Homo sapiens: one gene and its partner. The protein of the gene in region 1 purifies or fractionates together with the protein of each later gene. This does not show direct contact. Each region holds a gene or a part of one and is shown in the gene's direction. Other genes may lie near its edges.

The links.
Region 2: the proteins of AEBP2 (region 1) and ATXN3 purify together in Homo sapiens (affinity purification with mass spectrometry; 3 studies listed by BioGRID and IntAct, with this or other methods). This does not show direct contact.

What each region holds. Positions count from the first base shown.
Region 1 is NC_000012.12:19,494,787-19,498,641, forward strand, and holds part of AEBP2 (zinc finger protein AEBP2), read left to right. Parts: intron 1-3,855. UniProt on the Homo sapiens protein: Acts as an accessory subunit for the core Polycomb repressive complex 2 (PRC2), which mediates histone H3K27 (H3K27me3) trimethylation on chromatin leading to transcriptional repression of the affected target gene.
Region 2 is NC_000014.9:92,058,052-92,061,582, reverse strand, and holds the end of ATXN3 (ataxin-3 reference isoform), read left to right. Parts: 3' UTR 1-3,031; downstream 3,032-3,531. UniProt on the Homo sapiens protein: Deubiquitinating enzyme involved in protein homeostasis maintenance, transcription, cytoskeleton regulation, myogenesis and degradation of misfolded chaperone substrates.

The sequences.
Region 1 (3,855 bases):
ATAGAAAATAAGTAGATGATAAGGCTTGTAAATGCTGGGAGTAGGAACAGACTTTGCAACCTCAGAGTGTAGCTGGTCACTGCTTCTTTGTGTCAGCTGGTTAGTTTGTGGCTTTATTTTATTATTATTATTATTTTTTTGATGGGGTCTCACACTGTCGCCCAGGCTGGAGCGCAGTGGTGTGATCTCGGCTCACTGCAACCTCCGACTTCCGGGTTCAAGCAGTTCTCTGTCTCAGCCTTCCGAGCAGCTGGGATTACAGGCACCCGCCACCACGACTGGCTAATCATTATATTTTTAGTAGAGGTGGGGTTTCGCCATGTGGCCAGGCTGGTCTTGAACTCCTGACCTCTTGATCCACCCGCCTTGGCCTCCCAAAGTGCTGGGATTACAGGCATGAGCCACTGTGCTCGAGCAGCTGGTTAGTTTTAACTACATATCCTCAATGAAGAAATACCAATGGGTGAATGAGTGAATAAAGCTTTCATTGAAAGGGAGTCTACTCCAAAGGTGAATTAGAAAGAAAAAATAGATTGTACTTTACCCTTTTTCTCTGGGGATTGATTAGTATAGACAAGACTCCAGACACTAATTCCAGACTACGAAATTAGTCTGTAAAACATTGAAATCTTTTTGTTACTACAGATTTATAGCGGACAAATGAACAAACCAGAAAACTTTATATTTCGTTTTTATTTTTTTTCTACCTCATTAACTGAGAAAAGTAAACTTTCTTAAACTCTCTTAAATTTCATTCTTGCTTTTTTTTTTTTTTGATACAGGGTCTTACTCTTGCCCAGGCTGGAGTGCAGTAGTGAGATCATGGCTTACCGCAGTTTCAGACTCCTGGGCTCAAGCAATTCTCCCACCTCAGCCTCCCAAGTAGCTGGGACTACAGGCCTGAGCCACCATGCCTGGCTAGTTTTTATTTTTGGAAGAGATGGTGGGGGTCTCTCTGTGTTCTCCAGGCTGGTCTTGAACTCCTGGGCTCAAGTGATCCTTCCACTTCAGCCTCCCAAAGTGCTAGGATTACAGGCATGACCCACCATACCTGGCCTTAAGTTTCTTTTTGTTAAAGTAATCATGTTTAATTTTAATCAACGTTGGCTATTTATGGTACCATTTTCATTTTGACATCCTTTATAAAAACAGAAATTTAGCATTGCGATCATTTTACTTGTGTTAATATCAAGTAGCTTGCAGTTGCACACAGAAAATTGCTAAATATATATTATGGTACTCAAAAACCAGATGACTTTTCCACCAGTTTCACCTATCCTCATTATTATTTTAGTCTCAGTGTATACAGTAATCATTTAAATTTTCTGACTTTTCACATTATATACTTGGAAATATCTATGCAATTCGCTACTCTTTGTCTTGTAAAGAGAAGAGAGATTCAGTTAAATACCCAGTTCTTGCTTAGAAACAAAGTACTGGTGCCGGCTTAAGTATATGTTTCTTTTGACGGTGGTGTTTTTCCTCATATTAACTTAGCTAGTAAGGCAGGCTGCGTAGGGAGAGTTGGCAGAGAGAGGTGGTGGATGAAAATACCTTTTTGTCATCTGTTTTATTGAGGAGAATGGGGTTAGTCCTGAATATATTACTTTATAAACTTTAAAAAGGATCCAAGGCCTTTTCACTGTGGGGAGCCATTGTTAAGACAGTGCTGTGATTTGAATTAGCATGGTTAACAGCTGCTGCATTTCACTCTTTCTTTAAAAGCATACATATCTGTAGCAGTTAACTTTACCTAGTATCTTCCTCATGTAATTCAAGAAGACAGTTTTTACGAAACTGTGAAAAATATACCTTATAAATAGCAGCACTGCAGCAAATGTAATTTTCTGTTTGATAAAATTTGTTTTTTTTTTAACCTTTTTTTTTTTTTCTGAGACAGGGTCTCTCTCTGTCACCCAGGCTGGAATGCAGTGGTGCAATCATGACTCACTGCAGCCTCGACCTCCTGGGCTCAGGTGATTCTCCCACCTCAGCCTCCCAGGTAGCTTGGGCTACAGGCACACACCACCACACCCAACTAATTTTTGTATTTTTTTTTGGTAGAAGTGGGGTTTTGTCTTTTTGACCAGGCTGGTCTTGAGCTCTTGAGCTCAAATGGTCCACCCATCTCAGCCTCCCAAAGGGCTGGGATGACAGGTGTGAGTCACCGCACCCGGCCTGATAAAATTTATATATATACATATTTTTAATTTTTATTTATTTTTTCATTATTTTTAAAAATCTTTAAAATATATTTTTAATGCTTTTTAAATATACTTTAAAGTGGAAAGAATAGTATAATAAATACTTGTATTGCTCTTCACTTAGAGATTTACCAATATGGTACATTTGTTTTATCTTCCTACCTATATACTTTTTTGGTCATGGACCCAAAATTCTTAAGATGCATCTCCTAAGAATAAAGATATTTTTCTGCATAACCACATCATCATCATTACACCTAAGGAGAAGATAAATCATACAATATATGTAATTTTGAACCATGGGAAAATAGTTTCTATTTTTGTGGTTTCCAAAGGTGTTTTTTTTTTTTTTTTTTTTTTTTGAGACAGAGTCTCACACTTACTGCCCGGGCTGGAGTGCAGTGGTGCGATCTTGGCTCACAGCAACCTGTAATGTTAGGTTGTCAGTTTGTGATCTTTCAACCTTTTTGCTTTGTTCTGTTTTTGTTTTTTGTTTTTTTGAGACAAGGTCTCACTTTGTTGCCGAGGCTGGAGTGCAGTGGTGCAATCTTAGCTCACAGCAACCAGTGCCTCCCAGGTGCAATCAATTCCCGTGCGTCAGCTTCTTGAGTAGCTGGGACTACCGGCACACACTACCATGCCGGGCTAATTTTTGTATTTTTAGTAGAGATGGGGTTTTACCATGTTGGCCACCAAGTCTCAAACTCCTGGTATCAAGTGATCCGCCTCCTGCCTTGGCCTCCCAAAGTGCTGGGATTACAGGCATGAGCCGCTGTGTCCAGCACCAAAGGTTTTTGATTATATATCTTATTAGTTAAAAAAATACTGAGCACACAGTCTTAACGTATGTAATTTATACATTGTATACGGGTAATACTACTACTGCACATTATACAAAATTGCCAAGAAGGAATATTGAAAAAGAATGAGATGAAGAAATTAACAAGGGTATTCTATTCTTTACGTACTCTAATGGATCATGACACACACCTACTTTGGAACTACTGTTCTAGTTTGGTATTCTTGATAAATGCAGTGGAGATAGTGTGGTTAAGGTCTGAATGCATAGGCTGAAGATTGAGGACTCCTTTCATTATTGTGAATTTAAGTGATGGCTTCAATGTTTAAATTTGAGTGAGGAGTGGTTAATTTTAGTGATTTAGAGTGATGAGTTATTATTTTCCCCAAGTGTTTATTCTTAGGAAAAAGCATATATTTGGAGAGCTTGGAGAAAGTTACACATTTTTTTTCGAGTAGCCACTTATCTAACAGGAAAGTGATGTATTTCTCAGAACTCTCCCTTGCTCACCCCTGGAAATGTCAAGTACTTTTTTCTTTCTGATTTCTCATTGTCACTGCCTTCTTAGTCTTTTGGCTTCTGCTCGTTTATTACTAGTTGGTGTTTTGTTTATTTTTTCTTGAGGAAATATCTAGAGAAAAGACCTGTTTGTTTAGGTATGTTCTATTTGATGTGCCAACTGGTGAAAATATTCCCCCATAAAAGCTATGGTGGATTTGTGTAGATGTTTTGAGAACTCTTTGAATAGCCATAGTGTGGGAAATCAGCATATATGTAATTCAGAATATGCTGTACCAGGGAATCAAGCCAACTCTTTTATTAGTGAAATTGAATTTTCAATTACAGATCTTG
Region 2 (3,531 bases), on another chromosome or scaffold:
ATTTAAACTATTGGTATCATTTTTCTAATGTATAATTTGTATTACTGGGATCAAGTATGTACAGTGGTGATGCTAGTAGAAGTTTAAGCCTTGGAAATACCACTTTCATATTTTCAGATGTCATGGATTTAATGAGTAATTTATGTTTTTAAAATTCAGAATAGTTAATCTCTGATCTAAAACCATCAATCTATGTTTTTTACGGTAATCATGTAAATATTTCAGTAATATAAACTGTTTGAAAAGGCTGCTGCAGGTAAACTCTATACTAGGATCTTGGCCAAATAATTTACAATTCACAGAATATTTTATTTAAGGTGGTGCTTTTTTTTTTTGTCCTTAAAACTTGATTTTTCTTAACTTTATTCATGATGCCAAAGTAAATGAGGAAAAAAACTCAAAACCAGTTGAGTATCATTGCAGACAAAACTACCAGTAGTCCATATTGTTTAATATTAAGTTGAATAAAATAAATTTTATTTCAGTCAGAGCCTAAATCACATTTTGATTGTCTGAATTTTTGATACTATTTTTAAAATCATGCTAGTGGCGGCTGGGCGTGGTAGCTCACGCCTGTAATCCCAGCATTTTGGGAGGCCGAAGTGGGTGGATCACGAGGTCGGGAGTTCGAGACCAGCTTGGCCAAAATGGTGAAACCCCATCTGTACTAAAAACTACAAAAATTAGCTGGGCGCGGTGGCAGGTGCCTGTAATCCCAGCTACCTGGGAGTCTGAGGCAGGAGAATTGCTTGAACCCTGGCGACAGAGGATGCAGTGAGCCAAGATGGTGCCACTGTACTCCAGACTGGGCGACAGAGTGAGACTCTGTCTCAAAAAAAAAAAAAAAATCATGCTAGTGCCAAGAGCTACTAAATTCTTAAAACCGGCCCATTGGACCTGTACAGATAAAAAATAGATTCAGTGCATAATCAAAATATGATAATTTTAAAATCTTAAGTAGAAAAATAAATCTTGATGTTTTAAATTCTTACGAGGATTCAATAGTTAATATTGATGATCTCCCGGCTGGGTGCAGTGGCTCACGCCTGTAATCCCAGCAGTTCTGGAGGCTGAGGTGGGCGAATCACTTCAGGCCAGGAGTTCAAGACCAGTCTGGGCAACATGGTGAAACCTCGTTTCTACTAAAAATACAAAAATTAGCCGGGCGTGGTTGCACACACTTGTAATCCCAGCTACTCAGGAGGCTAAGAATCGCATGAGCCTAGGAGGCAGAGGTTGCAGAGTGCCAAGGGCTCACCACTGCATTCCAGCCTGCCCAACAGAGTGAGACACTGTTTCTGAAAAAAAAAAATATATATATATATATATATATGTGTGTATATATATATGTATATATATATGACTTCCTATTAAAAACTTTATCCCAGTCGGGGGCAGTGGCTCACGCCTGTAATCCCAACACTTTGGGAGGCTGAGGCAGGTGGATCACCTGAAGTCCGGAGTTTGAGACCAGCCTGGCCAACATGGTGAAACCCCATCTCTACTAAAAATACAAAACTTAAGCCAGGTATGGTGGCGGGCACCTGTAATCCCAGTTACTTGGGAGGCTGAGGCAGGAGAATCGTTTAAACCCAGGAGGTGGAGGTTGCAGTGAGCTGAGATCGTGCCATTGCACTCTAGCCTGGGCAACAAGAGTAAAACTCCATCTTAAAGGTTTGTTTGTTTTTTTTTAATCCGGAAACGAAGAGGCGTTGGGCCGCTATTTTCTTTTTCTTTCTTTCTTTCTTTCTTTTTTTTTTTTTCTGAGACGGAGTCTAGCTCTGCTGCCCAGGCTGGAGTACAATGACACGATGTTGGCTCACTGCAACCTCCACCTCCTGGGTTCAAGCGATTCTCCTGCCTCAGCCTCCCAAGTACCTGGGATTACAGGCACCTGCCACTACACCTGGCGAATATTTGTTTTTTTTAGTAGAGACGGGCTTTTACCATGTTAGGCTGGTCTCAAACTCCTGACCTCAGGTGATCTGCCTGCCTTGGCCTCCCAAAGTGCTGGGATTACAGGTGCAGGCCACCACACCCGGCCTTGGGCCACTGTTTTCAAAGTGAATTGTTTGTTGTATCGAGTCCTTAAGTATGGATATATATGTGACCCTAATTAAGAACTACCAGATTGGATCAACTAATCATGTCAGCAATGTAAATAACTTTATTTTTCATATTCAAAATAAAAACTTTCTTTTATTTCTGGCCCCTTTATAACCAGCATCTTTTTGCTTTAAAAAATGACCTGGCTTTGTATTTTTTTAGTCTTAAACATAATAAAAATATTTTTGTTCTAATTTGCTTTCATGAGTGAAGATTATTGACATCGTTGGTAAATTCTAGAATTTTGATTTTGTTTTTTAATTTGAAGAAAATCTTTGCTATTATTATTTTTTCCAAGTGGTCTGGCATTTTAAGAATTAGTGCTAATAACGTAACTTCTAAATTTGTCGTAATTGGCATGTTTAATAGCATATCAAAAAACATTTTAAGCCTGTGGATTCATAGACAAAGCAATGAGAAACATTAGTAAAATATAAATGGATATTCCTGATGCATTTAGGAAGCTCTCAATTGTCTCTTGCATAGTTCAAGGAATGTTTTCTGAATTTTTTTAATGCTTTTTTTTTTTTTGAAAGAGGAAAACATACATTTTTAAATGTGATTATCTAATTTTTACAACACTGGGCTATTAGGAATAACTTTTTAAAAATTACTGTTCTGTATAAATATTTGAAATTCAAGTACAGAAAATATCTGAAACAAAAAGCATTGTTGTTTGGCCATGATACAAGTGCACTGTGGCAGTGCCGCTTGCTCAGGACCCAGCCCTGCAGCCCTTCTGTGTGTGCTCCCTCGTTAAGTTCATTTGCTGTTATTACACACACAGGCCTTCCTGTCTGGTCGTTAGAAAAGCCGGGCTTCCAAAGCACTGTTGAACACAGGATTCTGTTGTTAGTGTGGATGTTCAATGAGTTGTATTTTAAATATCAAAGATTATTAAATAAAGATAATGTTTGCTTTTCTATTTCCTTTTGAATTTGTGTTTATTGTTAATTCATAGCTATTCAAAGTGTGATTAGAGCTGGGCTTGGTGGCTTGCATCTACAGTTCCAGCTACCCAGGAGGCAGAAGCAGGAGGATTGCTTGAGCCTAGGAGTTCGAGGCTGCAGTGAGCTATGATCCTGCCACTGAATTCTAGCCTGGGCGACAAAACAGGAAAAAAGTATGGATGGAGGACCAGCAGCATCTGTATCACCTGTGAGTCTTTCAGAAATGCAGAGTTTCAGGCTACACTCGGACCTACTGAATCAGAACTTGCACTTTTTACAAGATCCCCAGGACACTAAAGTATAGAGTGAAGCTTGAGAAGCGCTGTTGTGTGGATTGTTCTTAACCAGCTGCAGTGATGAATATGAATAACGCAGGCCAGCACAGTCCATTGATATTCTATTCCAGCTTACTGCCTGCCAAAAGGTCCATTATTACTGGATCCTCAGTCTTTTCCAAGAGAAGCTAAGAATTCCA